4 separate regions of the Homo sapiens genome follow, and regions 1, 3 and 4 are each linked to region 2. Evidence: fine-mapped expression QTL. A gene starts in region 2. Each other region holds a variant in brackets. All regions are shown on one strand. Distances are from middle to middle. Region 1 overlaps ENTPD4 (ectonucleoside triphosphate diphosphohydrolase 4). Region 2 holds the start of ENTPD4 (ectonucleoside triphosphate diphosphohydrolase 4). Region 3 overlaps SLC25A37 (solute carrier family 25 member 37). Region 4 has its middle 16 kb from the start of LOXL2.

What was found. PIP is the estimated chance that this variant, and not a neighbour inherited with it, causes the effect. A credible set is the group of variants that fine-mapping cannot tell apart.
Region 1: its variant is the best candidate, but not a certain one, in a credible set for the expression of ENTPD4 in whole blood (TOPMed, PIP 0.75).
Region 3: its variant is the best candidate, but not a certain one, in a credible set for the expression of ENTPD4 in whole blood (TOPMed, PIP 0.56).
Region 4: its variant is the best candidate, but not a certain one, in a credible set for the expression of ENTPD4 in blood mononuclear cells (TOPMed, PIP 0.75).

Annotation. Positions count from the first base shown.
Region 1 is chr8:23,426,695-23,434,630 of GRCh38, forward strand. ENTPD4 (ectonucleoside triphosphate diphosphohydrolase 4) reads right to left here. Exons shown (of 13, transcript NM_004901.5): 12 at 7,623-7,784; 13 at 2,468-6,460. The coding sequence ends at 6,232. Among named protein-coding and RNA genes, the nearest start is that of LOXL2, 27 kb to the left of the region's middle. The variant G/A (reference allele first, on the strand shown) is at 3,891.
Region 2 is chr8:23,454,012-23,461,947 of GRCh38, forward strand. ENTPD4 (ectonucleoside triphosphate diphosphohydrolase 4) reads right to left here and starts at 3,636. Exons shown (of 13, transcript NM_004901.5): 1 at 3,546-3,636. It overlaps ENTPD4-DT (ENTPD4 divergent transcript), which reads left to right and starts at 3,760. Exons shown (of 5, transcript NR_186533.1): 1 at 3,760-3,978; 2 at 5,203-5,343. RefSeq lists an enhancer at 803-1,304 and a silencer at 3,170-3,849.
Region 3 is chr8:23,529,927-23,537,862 of GRCh38, forward strand. All of the region lies in intron 1 of SLC25A37 (solute carrier family 25 member 37), which reads left to right. Among named protein-coding and RNA genes, the nearest start is that of SLC25A37, 4.9 kb to the left of the region's middle. RefSeq lists an enhancer at 64-133. The variant G/C (reference allele first, on the strand shown) is at 4,290.
Region 4 is chr8:23,416,019-23,423,954 of GRCh38, forward strand. No RefSeq gene overlaps it. Among named protein-coding and RNA genes, the nearest start is that of LOXL2, 16 kb to the left of the region's middle. RefSeq lists enhancers at 1-371, 6,204-6,704. The variant C/T (reference allele first, on the strand shown) is at 3,996.

The DNA.
Region 1 (7,936 bases), 27 kb before region 2:
CACCAAATGTTTTAAGTGTTTTGAGTCTAAAATCTGGGTATTAAAGCTTGGGCCAAGTGGGAGAAAAAGCAATCTTAGGAAAAGAAAGTGCTAAGTCTGGTCCCTGGAGTTTAAGGCTTGTGTAATGACAGGCAAGAATAAGGTGATTAGGCCCGGTGCGGTGACTCACGCCTGTAATCCTAGCACTTTGGGAGGCCGAGGCAGGTGGATCACGAGGTCAGGAGATCGAGACCATCCTGGCTAACACGGTGAAACCCCGTCTCTATTAAAAATACAAAAAATTAGCTGGGTGTGGTGGCAGGCGCCTGTAGTCCCAGCTACTAGGGAGGCTGAGGCAGGAGAATGGCGTGAACCCGGGAGGCGGAGCTTGCAGTGAGCCGAGATCGCGCCACTGCACTCCAGCCTGGGCGACAGAGTGAGACTCCGTCTCAAAAAAAAAAAAAAAAAAAAAAAAAGATGATTAATATTTTCAGAACTGTCCACTTCAAACTCTGATTCTCATGAAGGCAAAAAGGGTGAAAGGTAGTATTCACACTCCCAATTAGAAGCCTGAGAGAACAGCAAGAACAGCTGGCACAAGGATGTTGTAGAAATAACACAAGAGAAGACCCACACTGGGGATTCTAAAGCTGCTCCTTTGTGTTTCGATGGCGTTGCCACCGACAAACCTTTCCCCTTCCAGTCACACAGGGGCCACTGGAATCCCAATCCCTTGACAAAACACCAGATGCCTGAGATGTTTATTTGATGACTGGTTGAACGGGAGGAAAAAAACTCCTTTTCTCTCGTCTTTGGAGTTCACCTACTTAAACAAGAAGTCTGTCTTTTGTGCCTGTCACCATCGTGTTCTGTGAGGAGGTTTCAGTCCTTTACTCAAGGCAGAAATCCTTCTTAAGCCTTGATTTTCTTGTTTGGGCCTCTTACATGAAACAGACACAGGCTGTTGACAGAAATGTTGAAGTGGCCATGAAGTCTGGAGCCCGGATGTCGTTCACCTGCCAAACAGTGTCAAGGGTGAAAGGCAAAGATCGAAGGCCAAAGTGCCCCTAGCGTCCCCTGCAGCAGGTCTCAGTCAACCTTAATAGATCTATTAATAGAAAGAGGCTGGACTGCGCAAGGGCAGGGGGACTAGCCTGGCTAAAAGCAAAATAAAACACATCAACAGACACACTCTTCTTTTGTTAGGAGGAGGTGGGATCACAGGCCCACATGCTCCCAGACGAGGTGGGGCCAGGAAGACTCTCACAGGATTGCCTTTCATGCTGCCACGGATGGATGCTCCAGGCAGATCCACTCTGCCAAGGCGTGCTTTGGGATTAGCCGGGCACTCCTTTGTCTTTTCATGACGTTTCCAAAAGAAGACACTGTGACTCTGACAGAGGTGACCTGCACCTCACGACCCCCTCTGTGCAAACCATTAGCATTTCCGGATCTCAAAAAAACCAAAAAAACCCACAGGGCACATGCCAATTCATAGGACAAATGGAAACAGACTGAAAACAAAAACACAGAACCATGGCTTTTCAGACCTGTCAACATGGTTAGTGTTGGAAATAGGCACTGACTTCTCTTCCACCAAGTGGAATAAAAATTTAGATGTCTTTTAACATCTTAGATATTTTAACGTATTTAAAGTCAGGCAAAAAGCCCTATAGTCATTGCACTGCCTCAAAAATTATTTACGACAGTTCTATCTTAATGCTGTGTCCTGTTTTCCTAGCGATCAATGGCTTGAGGACCTCCCTTGAGCTCACTTTGCTGGCTCTGTTCTCTCATTTTGTTTTTGCGCTTCCCTCTCCTCTCCGGCATGTCTCAGGCCTTTATTTTTGTTGGTCCTAACAGCTGGTCCCCTTCCCTTCCCATCTGTCTCTATCATCTATTTTCAGGTTATGGCTCAGGCCCACCTTCCTGCTCCAGGAGAACATCTATGTATTCTCCAACGGCTGAGAAACATGCTGAGCGTCTAATGTCATCCTCCATATTGGTAACACGTAACATTAATAATGACAGTCATAATTTTCTGGAAGTAAGCCAAAGGTTCTAAGCTTAGATCGAACTGCAAAACAGTGTAACATAAAGTCAGCATTTGCTGTTACTATTAAATACATAAAAATTGGTTAATTTTATTACTTTTCCTTGTCTATATACAAGTAGGTACTTAAAATGGTGACCTTATAAACAGTCATCTCAGAGTGGCAATTATTGTTGGTGAATGGCTTAACGTCGTGGGTTGGTCACTACTTGTGAAATATCTGCTTTCTGAGCTGCAGAGAGTGTGGACGCCCTCTCCACAACCCCACACAATTGTGCTTCACTGTATGCACACCCAACACAACACATGCAAAGAGTGTGCGTCAGACTCAGACAATGTATTTCACTGAATTTGGACTCAAGTTCAACTCATCATTCTAATGAGTAAGAAGATTCAAAGATGACAAGGAAGCAAGCCCACACAGTCTACGGGCCATGGGATGATGAACTTTCGTTTTATTGATTTTTCAGTACCCAAGTGTGGCACTGTAAGGCTGCCACATACAGCAAGTGACATGACACCAAAAGGACCTTCCGAGAGTATTATTCTTACTTTGGATGGAAGACATCGCTTAAACAAAAAACATTTAAAGATGCTCCCTTGCTTTTTATAATTCCTAACTGTAAAATATAATTTTAGTACAGAACAAACAAATTCTCCTTGGTTGGTCACATCATTCATTATTGAAAGGGAAACTTAGTATCAAAAGAAACAAAACACTGAAATAAATAACTAAGTAATTTACTGAAAGGTAGTTTTGTTGCATTGCACACAACTGACCGCAGAGAATTCTAAAGCTGATTTTTTTCTTAAAGGATGAAAAACTCATTTGCCATTTTTAGTTTCTTGCTAAGTGATACATGCTCCTTATAAGGAAAACTACTCTGTGTAGGCCTGAGTTTAAAATGTAAATATCTGTTTATCCAGAGTTTGTTAATCTAGAGTACACAGATGTGGAAAACTGGTGGTGAAAAGAGGGACCTACCCAGCCTTCAGGGTGGCTGGGCAGGGGCCCCATGTTACTGGCCTCAGCCACCAGCAGCGTCTTCACTCCGCCCAGGTCAGAAAGCACTGCCTAAAGCCGGAGCTTAGGATGAACATGGGCAAAAAGCACTGGTACAGTTCCATGTGTTTCTCTTCTACTGTAATGTCCCCAGAGGGATTGTGAAATGTCTGAGAACATCCCCTGGAGGAGGTTTAAAAGTGAGAAGCCCATGATATGGCTATGGAACATAAGCACTTATTGCTGGCATGTTTCTACCAAGATTGAACACAATGCTTTTCTTTGATAAAGCTTTGGGCAAGTTCCTAGTCCAATTTCTTCTGCTACAAGTACACAGAATTTACTGCCTTCTTGGTCAGCTCTTGGTATGAATTCTTCTCTTGAATTAAGATCCTCCCTGGCTTGTCTCTCACCCACCCTGTATCTCTTAGAGAAAGCACCTGGCTGTCTTCACCTACGCGAGACCTTCTCTGGAATGTGATTTGCTGCGACTGCAGACATCTCCATACGGCATAATGAACTCCCTTGAGTGGTCTCTTTTTAAACAATTTTGGGTGAGGGGCAGGTTTCTTGGTTTGTTTCAAAACTCATCTTGAAAATAATCTAGACGGAAAAATCCGAAGTGAAATTCTGGTGCAACAAATATTTTAAGATTGAAGTTTGGTTACTTCTCTTGTCCATCTTTTCGTGCCCACAAATGGAAACTACATTCCTGATTTAAGAGGATGCTTCTGTCTGTATCCTTTTTTGAACTGCATTGTTCTCACAAGGACCAGCAAACTTTTTCTGTAAATATTTTAGTAAATATTCTAGGCTTTACAGGCCACATATAGTGTCTGCTGCATATTCTTCAAC[G/A]TTTTTTCTTAGGCAACTGTTTAAAAATGGCAAATCCACTACTACCTCTCAGCTGGAGCAATGAGGTTTTCTCAGCCCTTGTTTCAGGATCCTCAGGTATGTGACTAACTCTTCTATGCCCAGAGCTGGAAGGCGGGGTCCCCTAACTCCCTGGGTGCCCACCTGCCCACTTCAACCATTTGTGGCCCCTTCCTTTCCTTTCTTCCCTCTCTGCTGCTGACACCAGTGGCTCCATCGCCAGCTCCCTGCAGCCTCCACCAATAATCCATGGCTCCTCCAGGAAGTGTCGCAGGCAGGTGGCCAAGACCAACTTATTAGGTAGCCAGAAGCTCACCCCTTTCTTAACAACTTTGACCACGAAGCGCAAATACGATGCAGGTAAATCCAGAGGCAGAGCCTGGGTCCCCAGGCTGCTGGTAACACGCTTTGAAATCCAGGTGAGGGAGCCATGCCCCCACAGCTCTTGCCTCAAGGATCAGATGCATTTTACCTTCCAGAGACGCAGGTTAAGCTGCACCTGAGGCAGTTTGAGCCACAACTGGGACAGAATTCCCTTGGTCTTCTCTTCTGATCCCTCAGCAGAACTGCCCCTAATGCTCAGTTCATGGCAATACAGGCCTTTTCTCTCCTGTTTCTCCAAACTCTCCCAGCCTCTGCCCAGTACCTAGTTCCAAAGCCACTTTTATAATATCCTCAGTTATCTGTTATAGCAACAACCCCACTTCTGGGTACTAATCTGCTACCAACTACAGGAATTTAACTGTTCTGGAGTTAGGGAACAGCACACACAGACACTCGCACAAAACAAACTCCACCTAAAAAAACTGTACGAGAATTCCCCAAACTTCTCAACTAAATAAATAGGTGAAAAAACACCAATCTCACATATGCCAATCCAATTGTCCTTTTTAGATTTTGGCTTAAATTGTCGAATTTTTTCCTTCAAAATGTGAATTTATTTCCTGTATTGGATGCAGACTCTTCCCTTCTGGATTTACAGTGGTGCTGCCAGCAACAGCCTCAGTCAATGCGGTTAGGAAGAGGACTCGGCAGGCTGTGCATGGGGTCTCCCAGTACGATTAAAAGCTGAGATGACTTTTAATTAAGGGGGGTGGGGGAAACACCAATTGGAAGCTGGAAGAAACTGAGGCACGATTAAGCAGAAACACTGAGGAATACTGAGCAAGAAGTGGGCATGTGCTCTAGTTCCAATAAAACCGAAACTGGTGAAACTAGGAATTTCCAATTCTTTCAAAACCACAGTGTTCTAATGCCACTGAAATATGGAATAAGGAGCGTAATTACCTGCGGTCAGGAAAAGATAACAGTAACGAGGATTTTTCTAAATAAAATGTACCAGTAAATTCTGAAGTGTGTGTTTTTAAAGAACCAGCATTGCCTCCCCTCACGCTGGTTTCTTGGGATTTTTCACACACTCGCACAAAGCTGTAGTCGATAGTTCACTATCACTTTTATAAATGGTTATCTCCTGGTGCCCATGTTTCTCTGTTTTGGATATAAATGGTTTAAAAAATTTAAATTTGCAAAGAAAACATATACAGTAACAGACCTGAACAATAAATAAAAAAAAAAATCACCCTCTTCAGGTTAGAGCTTTCAAGATAGAGAAAAAAGAGGATTATCATTTCAGGCAGTAAGTTTTTTGGTTCTATGAAAGCATCACTATTCAGTCCCCTCTCCACTGACAGAATGCATCTTTCCACCTCCCTCCAGTATCAAAGTGCATGTGTTTAAATTTAACATTCCTTAGAGAAACCCCAGAAATCTCATTTATTTTTGGCAGATATCCTGTGCAGCAAAAATCAAGTGAATTTCCCTCTTCCCCACTCCTCAATTTAATGCTGTACTCAAAATGGCTAAACGCAATACTTCTAGACAGCAGGGCTTATAAACAATGCATTTTTTTTTTTTGAGACGGAGTCTCACTCTGTCGCCCAGGCTGGAGTGCAGTGGTGTGATCTCGGCTCACTGCAAGCTCTGCCTCCCAGGTTCATGCCATTCTCCTGCCTCAGCCTCCTGAGTAGCTGGGACTACGGGCGCCCGCCACCACACCCAGCTAATTTTTTGTATTTTTAGTAGAGACGGGGTTTCACCGTGTTAGCCAGGATGGTCTCGATCTCCTGACCTCATGATCCGCCCGCCTCGGCCTCCCAAAGTGCTGGGATTACAGGCGTGAGCCACCGCGCTCGGCCTGCATTTTGTTTTTGTTTGGAGGAACAAAAAAGGGAAAGAAAAAACAAAACCACAGGAAAATAAAGAGGAGAAACCCTGAGGCAAAAATGGCTTTTCCTTTTGAGTCTTCGTGGAGCTGTGAGCTGGATCACAAGGTCCCCGGGGCATTCTGGGCGGGAAGGCCCTCCTCCATCCAGAGGGCGGCGGCCGAGCTGCTCCGGGGAGTGCGCCTGTGGATGCGCCGCAGCCGCAGCAGGTACAGCAGGATGGCCAGCAGCACCACCAGGAAGCAGCCAGAGAACAGGTAGTGGTTGTAGACAAAGGAAACGCCCCGCCAGTGGGTGTGACTGGCTCGGAAGGCCTCCTGCTGGATGTCTCTGCCCATGTGAACACCAAACAACAAACAGGACAGTAAGCAAGGAAAGGGGTGGAAAGGGTGCACAGGGGGACGGCGGGACCCAGGCCCCAGAGCTGCACTTTAGGAACTGCAACCCTACCTCTGAAATGGAGAACGGAACAGCCCAATGCAGGGGGCTTCTAAGTATCAGTGAGATAACATGTGAAAGTATACTCTGAAGTCGGTCATTATAATTTGGGCAACCAAAATCAGAGGAATTTAGAAGAGCCGTGAAGGTTTCGCTGATACAAAGAAGTCAACATGTAAACAAACTGCATGCTTGTGATCAGTAACACCCATGACTCACCATTTTTACAGTTAACCCAGTTAAAAGGGTTGCTGAGAAATGCTCAATTAAATGGAGGGGGTGGGGGGAAGAGCAAATGTCTCATCTATCAGGTAACTCAGGTTCTTAGCACAGGTCAACTGACAGCAGATCTGCAAACGTGAATGGGGAAAAACGCACATCTTTGTTCTACCCAAGCGCTGACTGAGATGTAGCATTTCTTTGACCATGAATGCAGACAACAAACTATCATTAGCGTTGGCAGCACCTGCAACTTTGTTACTAACGAAAATCACAGATCTTTCATGTCCCATTATGGTATCATCAATGCCTCAAAATATCATTGACGCTCATTGACTACACTGAAATTACAGAAAGTGCTAATTCTGCTGCCAGATCCTGTTATTTAATGTGTTAATAGAGAAGAACACATATTACAGTATCACAAACTTGTTTTCTGTAATATTTTGGTATTATTTCAATATGATGGTTTCTTCTGTAATCCTATGTATTTATACATGCATTTAAACAGTATTTGGAGAAGAGGCCTGAGTCATAAAGGTTAAGAACCCCGGAACTGACCCTTTTGCCGGGGCTGGGGAACAGACAGTTGAGAATAACCAAACACAGGGCAGTAGGACAGGAGTGCTGTGTATTACGGGATGGTAGGGTGAGAAGGGAGGAAGCACTTGTGGGGAGGGGGCAAGACCAAAAGCAAACGTCACTGTCCCTACAATTCTGCCGTGGCCGGCTCTAACAGCAATGCCCCAAACAGCCACAGACCACAGCTGCCATGAGGTGCTGTAACTGCAGAAAAGCATCTTTTTGATTCTCGTTCCCAAATTCACAGCCCTACCTTAATGGTAGAAAGCGGGTCCTGTAGAGGATGGCTCCAAGGGTCCACTGAACCTCCTTGTCGTAAACTTGCAAGGCAGTCTTTAAGCTTTTATAGTTGACAGGAAACGAAAAGCCCCTATGAAACACCTCAAACATCCAGGCCGATTTGAAGCACTGATACCTACAAACGGCAAGCACAAAGGCAAGTCAGACTGACTCACTCTGTCAAGATGGCACACACACACACACACACACAATCCTTCCCTCTGTGGGCAGCCTTGGGGCAGGGGCTTCCTCAGGCCGGCTCTCCCAAACCAACTGCGCGCGTTTCAA
Region 2 (7,936 bases):
ATGTTAGGAAAGAAACCAAAATATTAACAGTGCTTAGTTATTTCTGGGCAATGAGATCAGGTATCATCTTTATTTTCTTCCCTAGGCTTGCCTATATTTTTCAAAGGACATATATTAATTTTATCATCAGAGGAAATAACAATTTTTAACAAGCTACCTTTGACGGATGAAACCTTGTTTCCAGGATCAAATACTTTTCCGAATATATTGAGAAAGCCTATCTTAAAAGCCTATCAGGACACAGGAATTCCAATCTGAACATTTAAAAAAAACATCAGTGATAGTTGTGTGATAGCTGAACTGAGAACCAAAGAAAAGACAGTTTTATTTAACAGCTTAAAGTCATGGTTAAAGGCAAACTGGTCCTTGAGGAAGAAAGTCAGGACTACGAAGGTGACATGAGGAGTAACAAACCCAACTCCAAATTTCATGGAGTTTGCAGATTGCTACAGAGAAAATACTAATGCCCAGAAAATAGTCAAGATACTAATTAAAGGCAATGTTAAATTACTGGGATTCTTGTTATAAGAGCTCAGAGAAGAGCACAGAGAAGGCTAGCTTTAGCAGGAAAAGATTCCTAGAGGTGGGAGGTCAATTCTAGATGGGGTGAGAAAGAACACACTTCGAAGAGGAAGGTGACCGAGAGAATGATCACAGCGCACTTAGGAAACTTTGTGTCATCTGAGGTTTGTCTCAGGAATTTTTTTTTTTTGAGATATGTGATGATTTTGATCAAAAGGACAAACAGATATTTTAAGTTACAAAGCTTGTGTTTAAAAGCAGAGAAAATAGGACAGCTTATAACTGCTGAAGCACTGTAATTTTAACTCAGGACAAAAGTACAATGGATTATTGCCTAAGAGTTAAATGGTAATTTGATCTTCAAATGTAAACTCCAATTGTCCTTCTAGCTAAGAATCTTCGCACCAGGGCACTGGGAGGCAAATTCAGTAATACCACATAAAACTGACATGTTTTAAAAAAGCCTAAATTGTGTTAGACCTATCACCAGAGAGATGCATTAATTCTCATGATTTCAGCTAGTGGGGCCCTACTTGGCTGAACATTATTGGAATAAAGCCTACAGTCAGGTGTCAATGTCTTTGTCAGTCTCTCACTGACAGTTCTACAGATAACGACGAAAACAATGCAAATCAACCACAAAGGGAAATGGTTCCTCTGGTGGAAAAACACAAGATGCAAGGAAACAGATGTTAGTGAACTCAAATCACAGGCAAACAAAATCACAGAGAAGTCAGCCTCTGGGAGAGCTCAGCTTCTGAATAAGCAAAGGTACCACAGGGAAGGGTACTTCAGAAAAGAATGATTTGAATATCAAAGGATTCAAGAGAACCTGGAAAAATTAAAGATGCTCTCAACCATTCCGGCAGCGTTTTGCAAGAAACAACTGTCTTTCTGAGAGTGAGAGGCTGATGTGGAGGCTGCCGGGTGGCACCGTTACTCAGTAGTGACAAAAGATACATGAAGACAACTTGATTCATTCTTTAAGAAGATATGTATGTAGTTGCATTTATGATCTGTATGTTCAATATTTATCTTACACATTTTAATTTTATTTTTCAATATAAAATCTTAACCTCTTCCTCCCTCTATTAATTTGCAAAATTCTGGTTCCCATTTTAAGTAGTCTTTTTCTGGTCACTTTTCCTGAATTAACTCTGACTTTCCTCAAGTTCCAGTTCCACGTTCCAAGCTCATTGAAGCCCTGTTACTGCAAGCTCAACTAGTCCAACTCTAGGGTTGAAATCTTCTAATGCAAACTCTAATACCACCCTCCAAATTCTCCAGGTCTAAGACGGGTACCACCAATCCCCATTGACCTGGATTACCTGGTTCTCAGCTTTGATTCCCACATCCGGTGTTGACAATCTTCTATCATTCTCCAAGCCAGTCGATTCTTCCTCAGATATCCCTCATATCTAAGATGACCACAGCAGGCACCACTACCTCAAGACAGATCTCTTGGCGACTCACCCACCTTCTGCCTTCACTGTGCACGCCACACTTTACAAGCAACTCTTTGTAAAACACGGCCTTCAAAATATGATCAGCTAAGAACCTTCTGGAAGGCCATGGATCAACACCAAGTTTCCTGTGTGGCACCTGAAACCTTTTATCCATCAACTGGTCCACCTTATCTCACCAACCTATCCTCTCATCAGTCCCAGATACCATCTCTCAGCTCCAGTGCAGCAGGTCTCTCTCTTCTCTCCCACACAAGCTGTCTCCATGCCTGCCTCAGGCATTTACTAACAGCACTTCCTCCGAGCCACCACCGTGTCCTCCTCTCAAGACTACACTTCTTTCAAGGCACAAGTCAACATGTTTCTTTGTCAAGATTTAACCTGTTACACATCCTGATGTTTTCTTACAATTGGAATCGTCTCTTTATTCATGAGTAGTCTATTTTAAATAAACATGCTGAGTAAATACGTAGAGAATATAAATCCTTAGATAAATGTTCATTTTTGTCTCCTTCCTAGACTATATCCTCAAGGGCCTCAGTCACACATTTCCTATTAGAGGTAGAAGAATATAAGCCATAGATTCAACATGCAACAACTACAAGACCTCTGTTAAGGTAAACAGAGAAATAAACGATTCAACTACACGAATTAGTGTTCCATTTTATAATTCTACTATGTCAAACAGAATTAACAAACCTGATACAAAAACATCAAATATATGGTAACACAAATAATATAACTCTTTTAGGCCTCTCTAAAGCTGGATAATTTGGTATTTTCATCACAAAAAGGAGACAACAAAGACTGCAATGCGAAATTAGCCTGGGCTTTGAGTGTCTAATTTAGAATTCTTCCATTACCTCTAGTTTACCTTCTAGCCTGAAAGTTCCTGAATCATAAAGGATCTCTTTAGTTTCCTTCGTGATAAGTGTTCTCTGAAAACGCTCTGCACTAGGGTTCATCTAACTGGGGTCTGAAGCACCCTAAGGGTTCTGGGACACATTCTAGACCATGAGAGAATTGTTCCTTTAAAAGGGGTCCGCGCATTACTCAAGTTCAGAAACAATGCTGTGCATCATCACTTTACTGCCCAATAAGCTCCATTTTTCCAAGAAGAAATCTAACATGAAATCTGGCAAAAGCAAAGCAAAGCGAAAACGACAAGACGAGCGAATGTCATCATTTAAAGCGGCAGGCAGGGCCGGCTGGGTCCCGGGTGCAGCATCCCTGCTGCCCGGTCAAGCTCCGCCCATTCGAGGGGGGGATCCCGAGCGGTCACCCGAGGCGCGCGACCGCCAGGTGTCCCCTGCCAGGGGCTGGGGGAGCGCGCCGGCCGCCAGGGCTCACAGGGGTTGGTCCCGGGGCGCTCGGATGTGGCCGCGCGGCAGGGGAGGCGGGAACCGGTCCGCGGGGCTAAGCAGGCGGCTGTGGGGGCCTGGGGCAGAGAGGCTCGTCCGCGGCCCGCTCGCCGCGCCGCCGGCCCCCGCACTCCAACCCACTCGCCGGCCCCTTCGGCCGCCCGCCCTCCCCTCACCCACGCTCGGAAGGCAACCTCACCTGCTTGGCCGGCCGGGGACCCCGGGAGCGGGGGACCACCAGTGGGCAGCATCACGGCCAGCCGGCTTCCTGGAGGCCGCGCTCCTTTCCTGGAGCCGCACCCCCGCCCGGCCCCCGCCGGCAACACGTCACCGCCTGCGCCCGGAGCGCGCCCGCTGGCGGCGGGAGCGCGCACGCCGAGGGGCGCGTTGAGCGCTGGGGGGCGGAGCCTGATGCGGGATGATTGGCGTCCGAGCGCTGGGCTGTTCCGTGGACCCGCGCGGCCACGCCAGTGTGCTGTGCACGGGAAATGTGGACGTGGGAGCACGGAGGCACCCAGTACTGTGGCGTGGTGCTCGTCTGGTCGTCAGCGAGCCTCAGCGTACTTAGGACACCGCAGTTTATCTTTCCTTAGCGCTCCTAACGGTTATGGAAAATAGCGCTTGAAAACCTGGTAAGGACTAGGCATTGTTGCTCAACTCTTGACATTTACACCTTTGCCGGTAACTCTCCCTGTTTCACAGATGGGGAAACGGAGGCTCACACTTATTCAGTCTCTCTTGAGATCCACCTGATTCGTGAGAGGTAGAGCCAGGATTTCATTCTTGCCCGTCGATGGCATATGTTAGTGCCTATGTTGGGGGAGGCAGACTGCCCCAGCCCTCCCCAACACACGCAATGGTTATGAGAAGAAATAAAGCGAAGGGTGTTCCTGAGATTGACCCCATGACCTACACTTAGTACAAGGCTAAGCTCTCTTAGCTCTCTGGCTTAGCAATAAACTGCTTTGAAGACACAGAACTTTGCACTTGAGAGCCGGAAGAGACCTTGGGAATCCCGGGTTCCATCCTTTCTTCCACCTTGTATACAGGTGAATGCACTGTGGCCCAGAGATAGGAAGTGACCAGCAATCCAGCCACTTTAAAAGATTTTTAAAAACAAGAGCCCTAGAAACGTCTACTCCATTCCATTTATCAAGTAAAACAAGCATAGACAGAACTGGCAGTTCTACATCTTAACACAGAATCCTTCTTGGTCCAGCACCCGCCTGGGTCACCTCCTCTTCCTGGATTCAGCTACTGTTAACGGAAGAAACCATGAAGCCTCAGAAGGTTAGAGCCAAAGGGACTCTACTGTGTAGCCCCAATCACCTTCTTTTACAGTTAAGAGCCTGGAACCCAGAGAGGTTGAGTGACTTGGCCAAGACCCCCTGGAGGCAGAGGAGAGCAGAACCAATGTTTCAGACTCCCACATGACTTGCGCATCAGTGTCTTTTTTTTGACAATCTGTTGCTATAAGAAATTACTCGTTTGGATAATTTTCACACTAGAAAACCCTGTGACCCAAGGCTAGCATTGAGAAGCTAAAGCTGGCCACTGACATACTGTGATTTTAAGGACAGTCTCCTTCGAAATTATCTGCCTTTCAAAATCTTTGCCATTGGAGACACTGGTTGGGGTTATGTTAGTCTTCCTTAAGGAGGGCTCTACTAAAATGCCAGACTAGGCCGGGCATGGTGGCTCATGCCTGTAATCCCAGCACTTTGGGAGTCCAAGGCAGGTGGATTGCCTGAAATTAGGAGTTCAAGACCAGCCTGACCAACATGGTGAAACCCCATCTCTATTAAAAATACAAACACTAGCTGGACATAGTGGCTTTTTTGTGCCTGTAATCCCAGCTACTCAGGAGGCTGAGACAGGAGAATTGCTTGAACCCGGGAGGTGGAGGTTGCAGTGAGCCGAGATCACGCCAATGGACTCCAGCCTGAGCAACAGAGTGAGACTCCATCTCAGAGAGAGAGAGAAGAAAAGCCAGACTAGTAAGTATTATCACACCATCCATATTTCCTGATAATTTATATGTAATAATTGTCTGATAAGAGCTAGGAAAGAAAAATATAGGAAAGTATGGAAACGTGTAACTTGGCATATTACATTCTAGAGCTGCAGTGACAAATTGCCCTAAACTGGGTGGCTTAAAGCAAGATAATTTATTGTCTTCCAGTTCTAGATGGTAGAAGCCTGAAATGAAGGTGTCAGCAGGGCTGTGCTCTCTCTAAAGATCTAGAGGAGGATCCTTCTTTGCCTCTTCCTAGCTTCTGGTGGCTACTGGCCATCCTTGGCCTTCCTCAGCTTGTAGATGCATCACTTTGGTCTCTGCCCCTGTTGTCACATGGTATTATCTCTGTGTGTCTGTGTCTCTGTCTCCAAGTTTCTTTCTTCTCATAAAGACACCAGCCATATTAGATTCAAGGCTCACCCTCATCCAGTGTGATCTTATGATCTCATATTAACTTGATTATATTTGCAAAGATCCTATTTCCAAATAAGGTCACATTCATGGGTTCTGGGTGGACATGAATTTTTTGGGGGTGGTCACTATTCAACTTAGTACATGAGAGGACCATCCTGGTCTGGTTCATCAGGGAGAGCTTCTTTGAGGTAACGCTGTCTGAGGTCACACCTGCACAATGAATGGGAATTTATTAGAATTCTGGGCCTATATGAAGGAATAGTATTTCAGTCAGTGGAAACAGCAAAGAGGCTCTGAAGGGGCCCATTCTCACTTGTTAACAAGAGAAACAAAAACTGGAGCTAGGCTGGGCGCGATGGCTCAAGCCTGTAATATCAGCACTTTGGGAGGCCGAGGCGGGTGGATCACGAGGTCAGGAGATCGAGACCATCCTGGCTAACACGGTGAAACCCTGTCTCTACTAAAAAAAAATACAAAAAATTAGCTGGGCGTGGTGGCAGGCGCCTGTAGTCCCAGCTACTCAGGAGGCTGAGGCAGGAGAATGGCGTGAACCCGGGAGGCGGAGCTTGCAGTGAGCTGTGATCGCACCACTGCACTCCAGCCTGGGCGACAGAGCAAGACTCCATCTCAAAAAAAAAAAAACAAAAACTGGAGCTAACAGGAGGGAACACTTACTAAGTACTTTATGCCAGGCATGGTTGTAAGAACGTTAGAAAACACGGCATACAGAATGATAATGAAACTGCATCAAAATATGTGGAATGCAGTCAGAACAGTCCTTCAAGAGAAATTTATAGCTTTAAAAGTTTATTTTAGTAAAGAAAAAAGGTTTGAAATCAATTATCTAAGTTTCCACCTTATGACATTAGAATAAGAAAGTGAATTAAACTCGAAGTGAATAGGAGGAAAAAAATAATAAAAAATAATATGAGACATTAACCAACTTACAAGTTGGTTCTTTGAAAATATTAACAAAATTGCTAAACTCCTAGTGAGATTGAGCAGGACAAAAAAACACGAATAACAAATATCAAGCATAAAAGAGGAAGATCCCTACAGATATACAGAAATTGAAAATATAATAAGAAAACATTATGAATAACTTTATGCTGATCATTTCGATAATTTACATTAAATGGAAAAAGTCTTTGAAAAATACAACTTCCCAAAACTGGCACAGGAAGAAATAGAACATTTGAATCACCCCATATCTTTAAGGTCCTAAAAAGAAAATTCCAGAGCAAGATGGCTTCACTAGTAAATGTTTATCAATCATTTAAGAAAGGTAATATTGATTTTATATAAACTCTTTTGAAAGAACAAAGGAAGAGAGAACACTTTTTAATTTATAATTCAGAATAATCCTGATACCAAGAAATAAAAAGGAAAGAAAATCACACACCTATATTTCTTACATAGGTGCAAAAATTTTAACAAAATATTGGCCAATCAAGGTCAGGTGTAATGACTCATGTCTGTAATCCCAGCACTTTGGGAGGCCGAGGCAGGTGGCTCACCTGAGGTCAGGAGTTTGAGACCAGCCTGGCCAACATGGTGAAACCCCATCTCTACTAAAAATACAAAAATTAGCCAGGCAAGGTGGTGGGCACCTTTAATCCCAGCTACTCAGGAGGGTAAGACAGGAGAATTGCTTGAACCTGGGAGGTGGAGGTTGCAGTGAGCTGAGATTGCGCCACTGCACCCAGCCTGGGTGACAGAGTGAGACTCCATCTCAAAAAAACAAAAACAAAAACAAAATTGGCAAATCAAATCCAGCGACATCTGAAAGAGCAAGATAGCATTACCAGGTGGGATTCTTTTTTGAGGAATGCAAAATTGGCTCAACATTTGAAAATCAATCAATGTCATTCACTACATAAACAGAATAAAGAAGAAAATTCATATGATTCGTATGATCTCAGTCAATGCAAAAAAAAATTTGGCAAAATTCAACACCCATTCATAATTTTGAAAAAAAGCCTTTATCAACTATAAAGGGTATGATTTTCCTCAGCTTGATGGAGCATCTACAAAGAATACAGCTATCATGGTTGTAAAATCAAAGTAACTCATTTTGTGCATGGGACTTTAAAAGTGTTAAATGAAATATTGAACAAATATGTGATACCTGGAGATACATGACCATTTTGCAACCATGG
Region 3 (7,936 bases), 76 kb after region 2:
CTTGCTGTGGATTGTGTGAGAGGCACTCAGTTTCCTTTAAACCCTGTCTGTCACTTGCCCCGGTAGTTTTAACTGCATTTCTGTAAAGAGGCAGCGTTACTAGGTGCGTTTTGCCTGGTAGACTGAGACCTGCCCTCTGTCAGCCTGCCCAGAACACCCCAGGGCCAGGATAGAGTAGTGCAGGAAGTAATGCCAGTATTGACTGTTACACGTTGCACTTTTATAGGCATAACTCGCCTAATTCATGCAACAGCCCTGGGGGTTAACAGATGAAGAAACTGAGGCGCAGAGAGGCGAACCGATTACCTTGCCCAGGCTCCTACACCACCTCCTATCCTCTGGCTGCAGCTGCAGTGTGCTTTGGAGGATTCGGAGGCCTCTCTAGGTGGCAATTATTTTGCAAGGCAGGTCCCACAGAGGCACCCCCAGCAGCTTTATCTTGTTGCTGATGCTGGTCCTGCATGAGCAGGTATGAAGGCCAGAAAGTATAACTCAGAGGGTTTTCCCGGCTCCGGGGAGCTCGCTTGGAGCCAGCAGTCAGTGTCTGGACAGGCAGAAGTCCAGTGAGGAAAGACATGGGCTTCCAAGGTGCTGCTGGACCTAAGCCTGAGCCATCACCCATATGTCCCTCCAGTGTCCCAGTGGGGAGTTAGAGGAATGGTTCTCATCTCCAGGAAAGACACTGGACTGATACCAGGTGGCATTTGTATGGGAAAGAATCCCTCAAATGTAATAAAATTCTCCATGATTGAAGCTGTTGTCTCAACTGCCCTGGGCAGAGTCTGGGGAAAGTTAGGAGCAGGGAGGTGTTATCTGAGCAGGCCCTAGTCCTACTGGTGTCTTGAGATGAATGTTCTATTCGGGAACCCCACAGTGAGTTCACTTTAGAGCATCATTTTAGCTTATTTTTAGGATTAGAAATAATTAGTTGTGCCTTCTGAGCACCCTTTGACACTCTCAAGAGGCGTTTCTCACACGTTTAAATTGTGTGATCTGTGTTTAGTTTCTCCCTGCCCCATACATGTTGATATGTTTTGGTTCAGATGTCACCTGTATACTTAGTATTACTTTCCATAGCAGTTTTCACCTGTGGACAGGTTAACATGGTGTGAATGGTAGAAGGAGCCGGTCTGGTTTTCCTAGACAAGTCTGTAAAACAAGGCGTGGGTTAGCTAATCAGTGAAGTCTTCTAGGTTCTGGGATTATAACTGACCCTTAGGGGCCCTTCCATGCTGAAGTGTGCAGGGTTGGTTTTGAGGCTGCCACTGAGTGCCAAGGTCTGCCAACATCAGCACAGTTGTCTGCCAAGCATGAGGAGTCAGGGGTGCATCCTCCATCATGGAAAGGCTTGGGGGAGACCACACCTGTGTTCCTCTTAAGTATTTTGGATGATGGCGAAGACCGGGAGTAACTGAGTCAAGAAACCCGGGTTGGGCTTCAAGCCCTGCTCTCACTTGCTTCATGCCTCGGGCACTGTTCTGTGCCTTAGTTTTGTCACTATAAAGTGGGGACAGTGGACCTGCTCAGTCCCTCTCCACATTTTTAACCCATGCCTCGTTTCTCTGAACACACAACACCCATCGTCCTCTTTTATGTTACTTGAAATATCAAAAGAATTATTACAGCTGAAAACAAATCTATGTAAATCGGATCTTGAAAGAGAGAAAGCTTTCTCCAGTTTTGAAAGGCGCCATTTTTAACTTTGATCTTGTAATGACAAATAAGAATGTTGAATCGGCTGGCTTTTTTCTATCCTAGGTAATGTGGACTGTGGAGCTCTGTGCTGGTCACTTTCAACCCTGAACCTGATGCTACTTATTTTGCAGTTCTAAGTGCAAAGTCGGCCTGGTGGATGCTTCCCATTATAATATTAAATTTGCTTCTTCGTGAGGTCACACCTCACATCCCCAGTGTCACTTTAATAACTAGTGTTTTTTACATGGTGGGCCATGACCCATTAGTGGACTCTGCATTTAAAAATAAATAAATAAATAAAAGAAGTTATTAGTGAGAGTGTAAAAATACGGGTGTGCCTGGCATGCAGTGGGAGAAATGTTGAAATTCTGTTTGGGTTGTGTGTGTGTCTCTGAGTGCATTTTACAGACGTGTACAATGTACTTCTGGCTGGGAGTTGTGGTCAAACAAATATGAAAACCACTGAACCTGAGAAAATATCTCTGGAGCCCCAGCAGGCAACACTGAGATTATGAAATGGGTATTTGGAAGACCTTTGGCAACTTTCCTGCTGCTTCCTGTGTCTTCTTCTTTCCCTTGGTCCTCCCATGGTGGGATGTGAGCACTCATTCATCCATAAAGGGCCAGTCTACTGGGACCTTTGGCTGCCCCTGCGATGACAGTGAGCAGCAAAGTGATACCCAGGGAGGGAGTATAGGGTCTCTGCAGGGCTCTCACCAAATGGTGGCAATGACTTACTCCTGTCTAGGCGGGGTCTGGTGGCAGGTTTTCCATGAGCCTCTTTCTGGTGTTCCAGAGTGGCAAGGGGCACTTGGGGTGGATACAAGAACCCCTGGTCTGATCAGGAGAGCTCAAGACTTGAGGAGCATGCCAGGTGGGTGGAGGAGGAAATTCCAACCAGATTAGGCACACCACTCGGAGACCATGCCGAGTCCCGCCTGGGGAAAGCAGGGGCAGAAGGAAACAGGAAAGATTTGAAGCCGGGGGACTTCCGCTGACCCTTTCACAACCCTTCTTTTGCTTTGCTGTTGGGGGAAACCCTGCCTGTGACTCTCCTAGGATGAGCCCTCCTTCCCAGGTTGGTGCACCACGGAGCGTTCCCTCTAGGAGCCTCCTGGCTGACCTTATGGTGTGCACAGCCAGCCTGCCCAGCTCAGCAGAGCATTACCTCAACTTCTGACTTCTCCTCTTCTGAGTTTTCTCCTGGCTGCAGGCAGACTGGTAGGAAGGGTGCTGGGGGGCAGTGCAGGCAGCTGCCAGAGTCCCCTCCCACCCACTTCATTGCTTTCCAAACAAAGTGCAGTTCGGTCCATGCCATTCAGCTTCAGAAGGGCGTGAAATCCCAAATTGCTCTAGTTCCTGGGACAAAACTATAATGATTTTTCTCTCTCCCTTCTTGTCTCCTCTCCCTCACATCCCCCTGCTCCCTTCTTTTCTCTCCTTTGATGAGAGGTGATTTTCTTAAAAGGCGAATTTGGAACGAGGAATCAAAAAAGGGGTATTTGTGAGCTGCAGTCCTGTTCCTTGTTTCATGAACCCCCAGGCAGCCATGGCCTGTACCCCTCAGGCCTACCCTGAGGAGTGTGAGAACCTCATCCACTTTTCTCTGCCCTAAATTGGGGAGGGGCAGGCTGGAGCGTGGTTTGGAGGCGCGTGCCCAAGAGTACTGTGAACAGCAAAGGGGGCCTCAGCTTTTTAGTAGGGAGAGGTATTTGGGGTTGAATGGGAGGATTTAATCAGCTGCTTTGCTTAAACTATACAGGGGTGTGCACCTGGGGTGGGGGATGTGCGTGTCACCTGGAAGGGAGGAATGTGCTTCCCAAACCTTTTCCTGGCTTCCACTTGGGCACGTTTCAGCTGCATGTGGCCATCTCATTAGAGATGAGTTTTGTCCTGTCTTGCAGCAGTGACCAGTCTTGGGGAATCAGTTCCACTTTCTCTGTTTTTTAGTCTTGGGCTTCTGACTCTCTCTGACTTCAGGGGTTTCCTTCTTCTGACTCATCGGATGAACTCACCTGCTGGTGTGGAAGCCTTCAGCATCTTTCTTGAACCCCAGAGCTTTTTGGCTCTTTTCCTGTCTCCACTAGTACGGAACCTTTTCTTGTCAAAGAATTTGTGTTTTTGTTTTTGTTTTTAATCCGAAATACCGGCTGTCATGTCCCATCCATGCTGGCCACAGACATACCCCTGTGATCATGGTGTTGGCTGGACCATGCCAGGATGCATGGCTTTGCCACTCCCATGCCCACCTTGAATGTTGTGTCTGATGTTTGTCATAGGAGGGGTATATCCAATCTCTTTCTCTTTTTTTTCTCCCTCTCTCTCTCTTTTTTTTTGTTTTTTTGAGACAGGGTCTCGGTCTGTCACCCAGGTTGGAGAGTAGTGGTGTGATTGCAGCTCACTGCAGCCTTGACCTCCCAGGGCTTGAGTGATCCTCCCAGCTCAGACTCCTGAGTAGCTGGGACTACAGGCACATGCCACCATGCCTGGCTAATTTTTTTGTATTTTTTTGTAGAGATGGGGGCCTCAATTTGTTGCCCAGACTGGTCTTGAACTCCTGGGCTCAAGCGATCCTCCCACCTTGGCCTTCCAAA[G/C]TGCTGGGATTACAGGCATGAACCACCATGCCCAGCCTCTTTCTTTTTGTTGAACTGGAAACCTTCCCTAAAGTTCCCTCAACCTTCCCTCAAGTTCCTACTGAGATGGATTTCCCACCCTTAGAGAACTATCTTGGGGTTCAAATTCCAGTCTTTGACTTACTGGTTGGGCAGGACACTTAGCTTCTTCATGTCCTTACTTGTCAAATGGGGATCCTGATTTTCTTCCTGCTTTCTCTTTCCTGACCCAGCTTTCCATTGCTTCTTTCCCACTTCTCTCATTTTTCCAGTGGGCCTTGTGGAAGTTCCTTGTTAACAAGCTCCCTTACATCTTCCCCTCTTTACCGAATGTTTCTTTCACTTCCCCCTCCTGATGGAAATCCAGCTCCTCTTGCTAAGGGTTGGGAGCATGGACCCTTGAGTCCAAATCCCTGGACCGGGTCCCATTTCCCAGTTAGGTGTGACCTTGGGCAAGTTTCTTAACCTTTCTGTGCTATTTCCCTATCTGTAAAAAGAAGAAGAGATGGTACCGATCTCCCAGGGTGGTTGTGAGGAGGGTTAAGCCCTCGCTGCACTTCACATGCCTGGTACACGCACAGAACAGTTGATACTCTCTGATGTCTGCTCTCATCTTTATCTTCATCATCATCAGCATGATTGCCATCACTTTCTCTCATTCCCTGAGGACTCTGGCATCTGATGCACAGACTTCACCTCCACAGATCCCGTCCTCACCCTGAGGATGGCCCCTCTTCGTCCCCACCCGACTCAAGTCCAAATCACTCCATTCCTTACACCTCTGAGTCAATGGCCTTCACCTCCATGGTCCCTTGACCTAACTCAGAATCTTCCTGAGATCTTAAATCCAGATTATTATAGCCTGGACCCCAAGATTGACTGCTGCAGCTGCTGGGGCCTTTAGTTTCTCTGCCTTTGGTTCTTCCAACCCTGGCTTGCCCCACCTGGGTCCTGGACAGCCCATCTGTCCCTTGGGCAGCGAAGCCCTTCAGGGGACATTCACACTGCCTCCAATGCGCATGCTCCCTGGCCTCAGCTCCACATGTCTGGGCAGCTGCTTGCATCCTTCACGAGGGTCCTGTTGCCCCTTAGCTCCCCACCCTATTGTTGTCAGCCTCAGCCTGGCATCTTGCTTCCATGTCATAGGGAAACCAGGACCTCAATCAAACCCATCTTCCTGTCACTGTCCTTCCAAACTCTCTTGCCTTCTACCCCCACTATAAGGGAACAGGTGTCTTCATTCCTTTAAGGTATATCAATGTGGCAGAGAAGGGAGATGTATACAAACCACCTTGACACCAGGATTTGAATACTGGCTGCACACCTGGGCACATTACCTAACCTCTCTAAGCTCAGGTTCCTTCTCTGCAAAGTGGGGATATGAATACTGTATTAGTCTGTTTTCAAGCTGCTGATAAAGACATACCTGAGACTGCGTAATTTATACAGAAAGAGGTTTAATGGACCCACAGTTCCACGTGGCTGGGAAGGCCTCACAATCATGGCAGAAGGCAAAAGGCACATCTTACATGGTAACAGACAAGAAAGAGGACAGAACCCAGTGAAAGGGGTTTTCCCCATATAAAATCATCAGATCTCGTGAGACTTATTCACTACCATGAGAACAGTGTGGGGGAAACTGCCCCCATGATTCAATTACCTCCCACTGGGTCCCTCCCATAACACGTGGGAATTATGGGAGCCACTATTCAAGATGAGATTTGAGTGGGGACGCAGCCAAACCATATCAAATACCAAGAGCTATTTTATAGGGTTGTTGTAAGAATTAAATGAGGCAACATATGTAAAGTTCTTGCCACAGTGCGTGGTGCGTACGTTGTCAATAAATGGTGATGGTGATGTCATTTTTGTCCCCTCACTCTTGAGTGACTCGGTTCCAGGATCTTTAGGCTTCCTGCTCCATTGAGTTTTTCTCAAAAGTGTTTCTACAGATCCAAGCCCATCCTGTCTTAAATAAACCCCAGACTTCTCACCTTGACCTCACATGCACCCCCAATGTTTCTTCCCATAAACAAACTGTTGCCCCTTTTTTTCCTCCTTAAAACAACACATGTTCTGAAAGAACTATTGACACTGGTCTCTACTTCCTCACTGCCACCCCTGCTTCCTGGCTTTTGCACTGCCCAGCCGCAGCCTCACAGAGACTTCTGGCTACCCATCATCTTCCTGGCCCACCCTGCTGCCTCTGTTCCTGCCAGGGGCACCTCCGAGAGGGGGTTGGCCCTGCGATCCTCAGTTTTCCTCTTTGGGCATGGCTTCTCCTCAGGAATGTGCCCTTCCACCTCATTTTCCCCAGCACACATGCCTCAGTTTCCTCCTGGGACCTGATGGCTCCCAGATCACTATCTTGGGCCCAGACTTTCTGGAGCTGAATCTCCAGTTGCCTCGGAGCCTCCTCAGACTCAGTGTGGCCAGAATGGTGGTCCTGGCTTCCCCTCGGGCCTGCCCTTCTGCCTCCTTCTGCACCCTGGGATGGTCATCAGCTTTTCTCCCACTGCTGCCCTGTATGCAGGGAAGGCCTGCCTGTGGCTGTATCTGTAGTACTTCTTGAATGTGTTTCCTTCTCTCCCTCCCCACAGCTACTTACTGCCTTGGTTCAGGGACCTGGATGTCTCCTCTTCCTTGAGATCCCAGACTGCCCAAGTTAAAAGTGAGTTTAGGCCGAGCTCAGTGGCTCACGCCTGTAATCCCAATACCTTGAGAGGCCGAGGTGGGAGGATCACTTGAGGCCAGGAGTTGGAGACCAGCCTGGGCAACATAGCGAGACCCCATAGGTACAAAAAATAAAAACATTAGCTTGGTATAGTGGTATGCGCCAGTGGTCTCAGCTTCTTGGGAGGCTGAGGTGGGGGAATTGCTTGAGCCTGGGAGGTCGAGGCTGTAGTGAGCTATGATTGGACCACCGCACTCCAGCCTGGGCAACAGAGCAAGACCCTGTCTCAAAAAAAAAAAAAAAAAAATGAGATTACTCTCCCCTGCCTCACATTTCCCTATTGCCCATTGCTGCTTTGTTTTTCTCCCCAGCAGTTGTTACTTCGTAACACACACCATCGTTTATTTATATTGTTTACATATTTTACTTATATTTATAGTATTATTTGTATTGTTTATGGTCTCTCTTCCCTCATCAGAATGTAGGCCCCAAGTGGGCAGGGATGTATGCTCTTCTGTTCACCACTGTATTCCCATTGCCAGAAACACAGTAGGTGCTCAGTAAGTATTTGATGGAGGAGCTTCTGCAGTTCATTCTGCACGTCAGCCATGGCTGGTCCTGCTCTTCAGCCTCCAAGCCCAGCAGCTTCCTGGTGGGCTGCAGTTTTCTCATCGGAAATAGAGAAGAGTAGCAGTGCCGATTCTGCCTCCCTTGCAGGTCGTTTTAGTGCATCTAGTTGGAAAATACAGGCAGGTTTGCAGGGAACACAGTTTTCAAAGTGTAAAGCTCAGTGCAGGTGCTAGGTCATGGTGTTTTTTGTCACACTGGGATCCTGCGGGAGAGGTAAGTTTAGCTGATTGGAGTGGAAGATCCAGCCCATTCTTCGTGGTGCCTGCCGCAGAGCCTGCAAGCCTGCAGAAAGACAGGGAGTAGCCACGTCTTTCTGTAGTTCACA
Region 4 (7,936 bases), 38 kb before region 2:
CATGGGGTGACAGATTCTGAAGACAAGCTGGGCCAATATTCTCATTTTGCTGCTTCTCCTAACTTCCCTTTTGCCCCCTCCACATGGAAAGTCTCCTGCTGAGAGAAAAGGGAGACTTTCACCTAGCACAGTCATGCAGAGGGGAAAAAAAGCTGATTCAAATCTCATTCCCAGACACCTGGCTTCTGCCAGCTCTGACCACCTTGTCTCAAAGATGCAGCTGAAAGAGGGAAGGGGGAGCACCAGACAAAAATGGGAGCTTTTCTGCAGAGAGATGGGCTGGCGCTTGGCAAGGCCCACGCTCCGGGCTGCAGCCCAGCACAGCCTCACTGGTCTCCCAGAAAGCATATGAGATGCCTGCTCAGGGCGCTCAGGGTTGGCTGAGGACACAGCCTGACTGCTCTGTTCCAGTCACTGGTATTTATGAGCCTCCTGTGAGCCCAGACCCAGGTCTGCACCACAGGGGAGGCGGGAAAGGTACAAATTCTGCTCTGCCCGCCAGCCCCCTGCACTCCAGGAGGTGCCCATGGTGGGCAGAGGATGAGATGTTCAGAGGAAGCCATGGTTCAGGAAAAAGAGCCCCCAGACCTCAATAGCGTTAGCAGCAAAATAGGACGAACACGTCTCTGGACTGAATTATGTCCCTTCAAAATTCGCATTAAAGCGGTAACTCCCAATGAGATGTTATTTGGACATGAGGTCTTGGGGAGGTAATTAGGGTTAGATGAGGTCATGAGGAAGGGCCCTCAGGATTTTATTTTATTAGTGGCTTTCTATGAAGAGGCAGAGAGAGAAATCACTCTTTCTGTTTGCCAGGAAAGGTCCAGTGAAAAGATGGGTCTATGAACCAGGAACCAAATTGGCCAGCATCTTGACCTTGAACTTCCCAGCCTCCAGAACCATGAGAAATGTCTGTTGTTTATGCCACCCAGTCTGGTGTTTTGTCATAGCAGCTGAGCTGACTGAGACAAACATATGAGTGGTGTTCCCTTCCCAGCCTTCCAGCCACAGCTGGCTGTGACCAACACTGGGACACTGGAGACTTTGCTTCTCTGTTCACCCCCTCCACAGTTTACCTTCCTGCTCTGGGCCAGCGGTTGTTCTAGAAGTATGGTTGGGGACCACTGGGAGTTACCAAGACCCTTTCAGGGGGTCCACTGGATCAAACTATTTTTAAAATAAAACTAAGACCTTATTTGCCCTTTTAATTTCATTTTTTTAGAGCTGGTGATATGTCAGGAGCAGCTGGAGCCACTTCCTCCAAACTGACCAAGACTTATCATTGGGGAGAGCTCCAGGGACATCAGGCAACTTGGATTCCAGTCTTAGATTTCCCCTCAGGAAATGGGGCATTGACTTAGATAACAAAGCCTCCTCCTCACTGTAAAAATGGCATTGTCCCATTTTCCCTGAATCTTGGTGTTCTTTTTCATAGATTGAGATATAATTTTATATCCCCTACATATCTCACAAAGCTGTTAAGGAAGCCAAATAAATTAAATGTGAATGTTCTCTAACAAGAGAACATTGTTCCGTCATTATTAGGTGTAATTATTAAGAGAGGCGCAATGCAAGGAGAATCAGGAAATGAATATCCCTGCCATCCCAAACCACTGACTTGAAGTGAATTCCTCTCCAGCCTGTGACTCACGCCTCACCAACATGGGCTAAAACCTGCCTGTGTGAGAGTGAGGGACCCTGGGATCTGCCCACCCACAGGTCTTAAGCCAGCCTCTGCTCTGGCAGGGTGTAAACACCCAGAGTAGACAAACACCAGAGGAAGAGCCCTGGATGTAGACACCCAGGGGAACTACTATCCACGGGAATAAATTGGTCCCATTACCCCATCCCTGTGGCCCCTCCAACAGTGGAGCTGCAATGAGAGGTGGAGGAAAACTTCACCTTTCTTGTCTCTTCCACTTTGTAGAGTTCACCCAGTATCTCTGTATTTCTGCTATAAAATGACTACTTTTGGCAGTGATTATGCTGCAAAGGTCACATTGTCTTTTCAGCAGGGCAGTTCAGGTTGGAACTAAACTGGGTTGCGCAGCCACTGGGTGGTGACATTGTTTCTCTGCAGGTGACCTCCAACTCCAATCATGGGATGCCCAGACCTGCCCAGACCTTGGCTGGGCTCTGAGGCAAACCTTCCAGACGGGATGACCGAGGCTGCAGTTGAGGCCTGAGTCAGGAAAGATGGAGCAGGAGATAAAGTCCTGGGCTGGAAAAGAATGAATGTCACAACTCTCTCCATTTTACAGACAGTGGCTCCGAAGGGCTTTCATCACACGCATCATCTTGGAGCCCCTCGACCTCTCTGTGAGGCAGGTATGACAGGAGTTCTTACTCACATTTTATAGGATTGGAAACTGAAGTCCAGAGAAGTGACATGGCTTGCTGAAGGCCACATTTGAAGTGACAGAGGCAGGGCTTGGCTGGGCCTTCTGACTCCAGGCCACAGCCAGGGCTTTCTGAGTGCAAGCTCCTTTCATCAGATGCTTACTACAAATGATCCAGGGCGCTGGGCCATGGGGACACGGAAATAAAGATTACGTGGGGTCCCTGTTCTTAAAGAACTCAGCAGGCCGGGCACGGTGGCTCACTCCTATAATCTCTGTGCTTTGAGAGGCCAAGGTGGGAGAACTGCTTGAGCCCAGGAGTTAGAGACCAGCCTGGGCAACATAATGAGACCCTGTCTTTACAAAAAATGAAGAACTTAGCTGGGTGTGGTGGCATGCACCTGTAGTCCCAGCCACTTGAGAGACCTAGGCGGGAGAATTGATTGAGCCGGGAGTTTGAGGCTGCAGTGAGCTATGATTGCATCACTGCACTCCAGCCTGGGTGACAGAGCAAGACTCTGCCTCTAAAGAAAAAAAAGGAAAGCTCATAGTCTTGGAGGTGGGACAGAGGGCAGGGTGACAAGTATATAAACAGACACTTCCAATGACAAATTCGATAAAAAGATGCCATGCGAGCAGAGAGAAGGACCTGAACTCAGTCAAGCAAGACTTCCAGTTGGGGGTTGACGTGTGTTCCCCCAAAAGTTATGTTGAAGTCCTAACTCTGGGAGCTCTGAATGTGACGTTGTTTGAAACTGAGTCTTTGCAAACGCAGTAAATTTAAGATGAAGTCATCAGGGCAGGTCCCTATCCAATATGACAGGTGTCCTTATAAGAAGAGGAAAATGCCACGTGAAGACCGAGGCAGAGATAAAAGTGACACAGCTGCAGGCCAAGGACCATTGAGGATCGCTGGTCACCGCCAGAAACCAGGAAGGGGCAAGGAAGGATTCTGCAAGGTCTCAGAGGGAGCGTCGCCCTGCGGACTCCTCAACTTGACTTCCAGCCTGCACAACTGTGTCTGTGCTTTTCCACATTGTAGGCCCTGCCTTCGTGCTGTTAATTCTGCCCACCGCGTTTTCCTGTACGGTCCCCTCTGAAAGCTCCACAGCCTTTCCTATTGAGCTCAAGTGTCCCCTGCTCTTGGTAAGTATATTCGCCTCCTAGGGCCCTCATGACAAAGCACCACAAACTGGGTGGCCTCAATAGCAGACACTTATGCTCTCACAGTTGTGCCCCTAACACAGGAGAAGCTAGATACCTCTGGTGTTTCAGCTTAACGCTTACAGCTAATTGCAGTCATTCAGGTTTTACAGCTCACAGCCTCAGATCCTATTAACTTTGTCTGTGATTCAGCTTATGTTGTAAATGTAGCCAGTCGCATAGAAACTGCCACAATTAAAAGTACACTAGACCCAGAACTGCTTAATTAGTTAATTAATTAATTTATTTTTGAGATGGAGTTTTGCTCTGTTGCCTAGGATATAGTGCAGTGGCACAATCTCAGCTCACTGCAAGCTCCGCCTCCCGGGTTCACGCAATTCTTCTGCCTCAACCTCCCGAGTAGCTGGGACTACAGGCGCCCGCCACCACGCCCGGCTAATTTTTTGTATTTTTAGTACAGAAGGGGTTTCACCATGTTAGCCAGGATGGTCT[C/T]GATCTCCTGACCTCATGATCCACCTGCCTCGGCCTCCCAAAGTGCTGGGATTACAGGTGTGAGCCACCATGCCCAGCCGCTTAATTTATTTTTAAGACTTCAACAAGTTATTCGTTCTCATGCAGCTCCTTTTCATATTTCTCATATTTGCTCTCACACACAACTTCCTGGACCCCTATCTCTAGGTAATGAGAAAGCAGACAAACTGATTGGTTCTGTGTTTCGGCAAGCTCAAGCATCTCATGCACTTCTGCACCAAAATACTTCCACCCTTACTCGCATGTTCCATTTATCTCATAGCCAAGCTAGGGCTATAATACAAGCCTGTCCTACTTGCCAGCATGTCCCTGGAACTATACCTGTAGAAGGCTGTAACCCACGAAGTTTGGCTCCAAATGAAATTTGGCAAATGGATGTTGCACACATAGCAACCTTTGGTAAGCTTAGCTACGTTCATGTGACTATAGACACTTATTCTCATATGCTGCATGCTACATGCCAAACAGGTGAGACAGCTGGTCATGTATGGCCACATTGTCTGTCATCATTTGCTCACATGGGGATACCTAAACAATTAAAAACTGACAATGGACCCACTTATACTAGTCATGCTTTTCAAAATTTCTTACAGCTTTGGGCTATAACCCATAAAACAGGAATTCCTTATAATCCTAGAGGACAAGGCATTATAGAGCAGGCACATCAAACATTACAACGCATATTGAAAAAACAAAAAGGGGGTATAGGAGACCAACTACCACCTCAATCAAAACTACATTTAGCCTTACTTTAAATTTTCTGACTCCTGGTATGGAAGGTAAAGACTCCAGCAGAAAGACATTGGCAAGTGTTAGAGGAAAAGAGGAAAGTTTATCCGAAAGTGTTACGGAAATCCCCGGAAGAAGGCCAATGGAAAGGTCCAGTGGATTTACTAATGTGGGGAAGAGGGTATACTTGTGTTTTTGCAGGAGATGGATGAACTGTGTGGGTGCCCTCAAGGTGCGTGCGACCATGGAATGGGAGACTGGAGGAACCCAGGGTGGCCAACCATGGACCCGGTCCCGGTATGAGCCATGAGTCAGCTGAGCCTGAATGCAAAGACGGAGAGAAGGCCGACCGGAGTCACAACACAGTTCTAAGGTTACATTTGTAAAGAATATCATCACTCAATTTACAGTTTGTGTTTTTAATCCTTATGTCTTTTTGGCAGCTAAGAAGGACCAGCTCCAGGTAAACAATACCCAATTGACCTGTAAATCTTGCCAGTTATATCACTGCACTAATCATAGCACATTGCAAACACATAATATCTCTACTGTGATGATTTTAGGTGGTATCCCTGGGCTAGGGATTCCTGTTAATCTGTCTGAGCCTTGGGCTGCCACACCTGCTTTGCATTTTGTGAAACTTCTAACTCAGCTGACTCATCGTGCCCGTAGAGCCTTAGGCATGATAATTTTTGCTACTGTTTACTTGGTCATGCTAGTAACTTCTGTTGTGATATCTTCTGTAGCTTTGCATAATTCTATTCAAATAGCTCAGTACGTGGAGAACTGGACGCGCACAGCTGACCAAGCGTGGCGACTTCAGAATAAAATTAACACTGAGCTACAAACTGAAGTGGCAATGCTGAAATCCACGGTTCTGTGGTTAGGGGCACAAGTACAAAGCTTGCAGTTGCAGCAGTAATTGCGCTGTCATTTTAATCACACTCATATTTGTGTAACCAACTTAGAATACAACCAAAGTGAGTATCCGTGGGACCTTGTGAAAGCCCATTTGCAGGGAGCGTTCACATCCAACATCACCTTTGATATTGGTGAATTACAAAACAAAATTCTTGATTTAAATAGGCAAACTCAAGAATTTCAGCCTTCTTTAGAAGACGGGACCAAATTCCAGCAAGGCCTGGAGAGCCTCAACCCTTGGACCTATCTAAGGCACCACATTAACATCTTATATGTAGTTCTTGGAATAATGTTGTTTCGTCTCTGTCTTCTGTTTATAGTCTGTAAAATCGGATGGACTGCCAATCGGAGAATGAGAGCTGCCCAGCCTGGCCTTACATTTTTTCAATTAATTCATAAACAGAAAGGGGGATATGCAGGGAGCCGAAGGCCCATGGGATGTGACCAACGCAGCATTCCACTGGAGGCTATATGATCCAACAGCAAACTGTTTATCATGAATGCAGGATGTGAGAAAACTGACGACTGCTCCTGCCGACAGAAGGTTTGCTGGAGGCAATCACTCCCTGGCGCTGAGGTTATCTACTGCAACATTTAGCCTGTTGTTCGAGGAATGCAGTCTTGCAAGCCTGCTCTAGACTGAGCAGCTGACCCCTTCTTCCACCCCGCTTCTCACTATCTCTTTTGCCTAATAAATAAGGAGGGCTGTATAAAGCTCAGGGCCCTTGTCCACTAGGGGCAAGGTACCCCCTGACCCCTTCTTCAAAATATACTCTTTTGTCTCTTGTCTTTTATTCCCGTGTTTGCCCCGCTTTGTTCAGTCCCCCTAGGTCCGTGCAGGTTACAGTGGAATCCGTATTCACGTGCATATTCTGGCTCATTTCATACTACAGAAGCAGTGAGGTGAGTTTTGGACAGAAGTCATGTGGCCTGCAAAGTTAAAATGTTTATTATCTGGCCCTTTAGAGAAAAAAATTGCTGCCTGGTCTGAAGCGGCATTTTTCAAATGTGAGCATGCATTATGAGTGACCTGGAAGGCTGGCAAAATGAAGAATTTGATTCAAGAGGTCTGAGACCAAGCCTGAGATCCAGCACTTCCGTCAGGCTTCAGTGATGTTGATGCTGCTGATTCAAGGACCACACTTTGAGAAGCAAGTACCGAGAGCAGCTCCGTCTGACGGAAATATACTGTGAGCCACACAGGCAATTTAGAGTTGTCTAGTGTACACATTAAAAAGGTAGAAGGAAACAGGTGATGTTAATCCAATAATATTTTATTTAACTCAATATACCTAAAATATTGTCATGTCTCATGTACCCAATGTAAAGAAACTGAGATATTTCATATTTTTTTTACATGAAGTCTTTGAAATCTGGTGTGTCTATATCTATATATAGACAGACAGATATAGATATATATTTTTTTGAGACAGAGTCTCACTCTGTTGCCAGGCTGCAGTGCAGTGGGGAGATCTCAGCTTACTGCAACCTCTGCCTCCCGGGTTCAAGCGATTCTCCTGCCTCAGCCTCCCGAGTAGCTGGGACTACAGGCGCCCACCACCATGCCTGGCTAATTTTTGTATTTTTAGTACAGACGGGGTTTCACCATATTTGCCAGGATGGTCTCAATCTCCTGACCTCGTGATCCGCCCGCCTTGGCCTCCCAAAGTGCTGGGATTACAGGCATGAGCCACTGTGCCCGGCCTGAAATCTGGTGTATATTTTATACTTACAGCTCATCTCAGTTTAGATTGGCCTGTTTCATGTGGCTAGTGGCCGTCATACTGGACAGTGCAGCTCTAGAGTACAGAATGGAGCCAGGCTGCCTGCGTTCAAATCCCAGCCCCACCACTGGCTAGTTCGGTACCTTGGGCAAGTTGTGTGCCTTTTCCACATCTGTTTCTCCACCTGTAAAGTGACGGTAATCAAAGCACCTCCTCATGGTGTCATTTTGGGGACTGACATGGTTAGGCTTTGTGTCCCCACCCAAATCTCATCTTGAATTATAATCCCCACAATCCCCACATGTCAAGGGGGAGACCAGGTGGGGGTAATTGAATCATGAGAGTGGTTTCCCCTGTGCTGTTCTCGTGATAGTGTTCTCAGGAGATCTGATGGTTTTATAAGTGTTTGGTAGTTCCTTCTGCATTAATTCTCTCTCCTGCCACCTGCCAAGGTGTCTTGGTTCCCCCTCTTCACCTTCCGCCGTGATTGTAAGTTTCCTGACGCCTCCCCAGCCATGCTGATCTGTG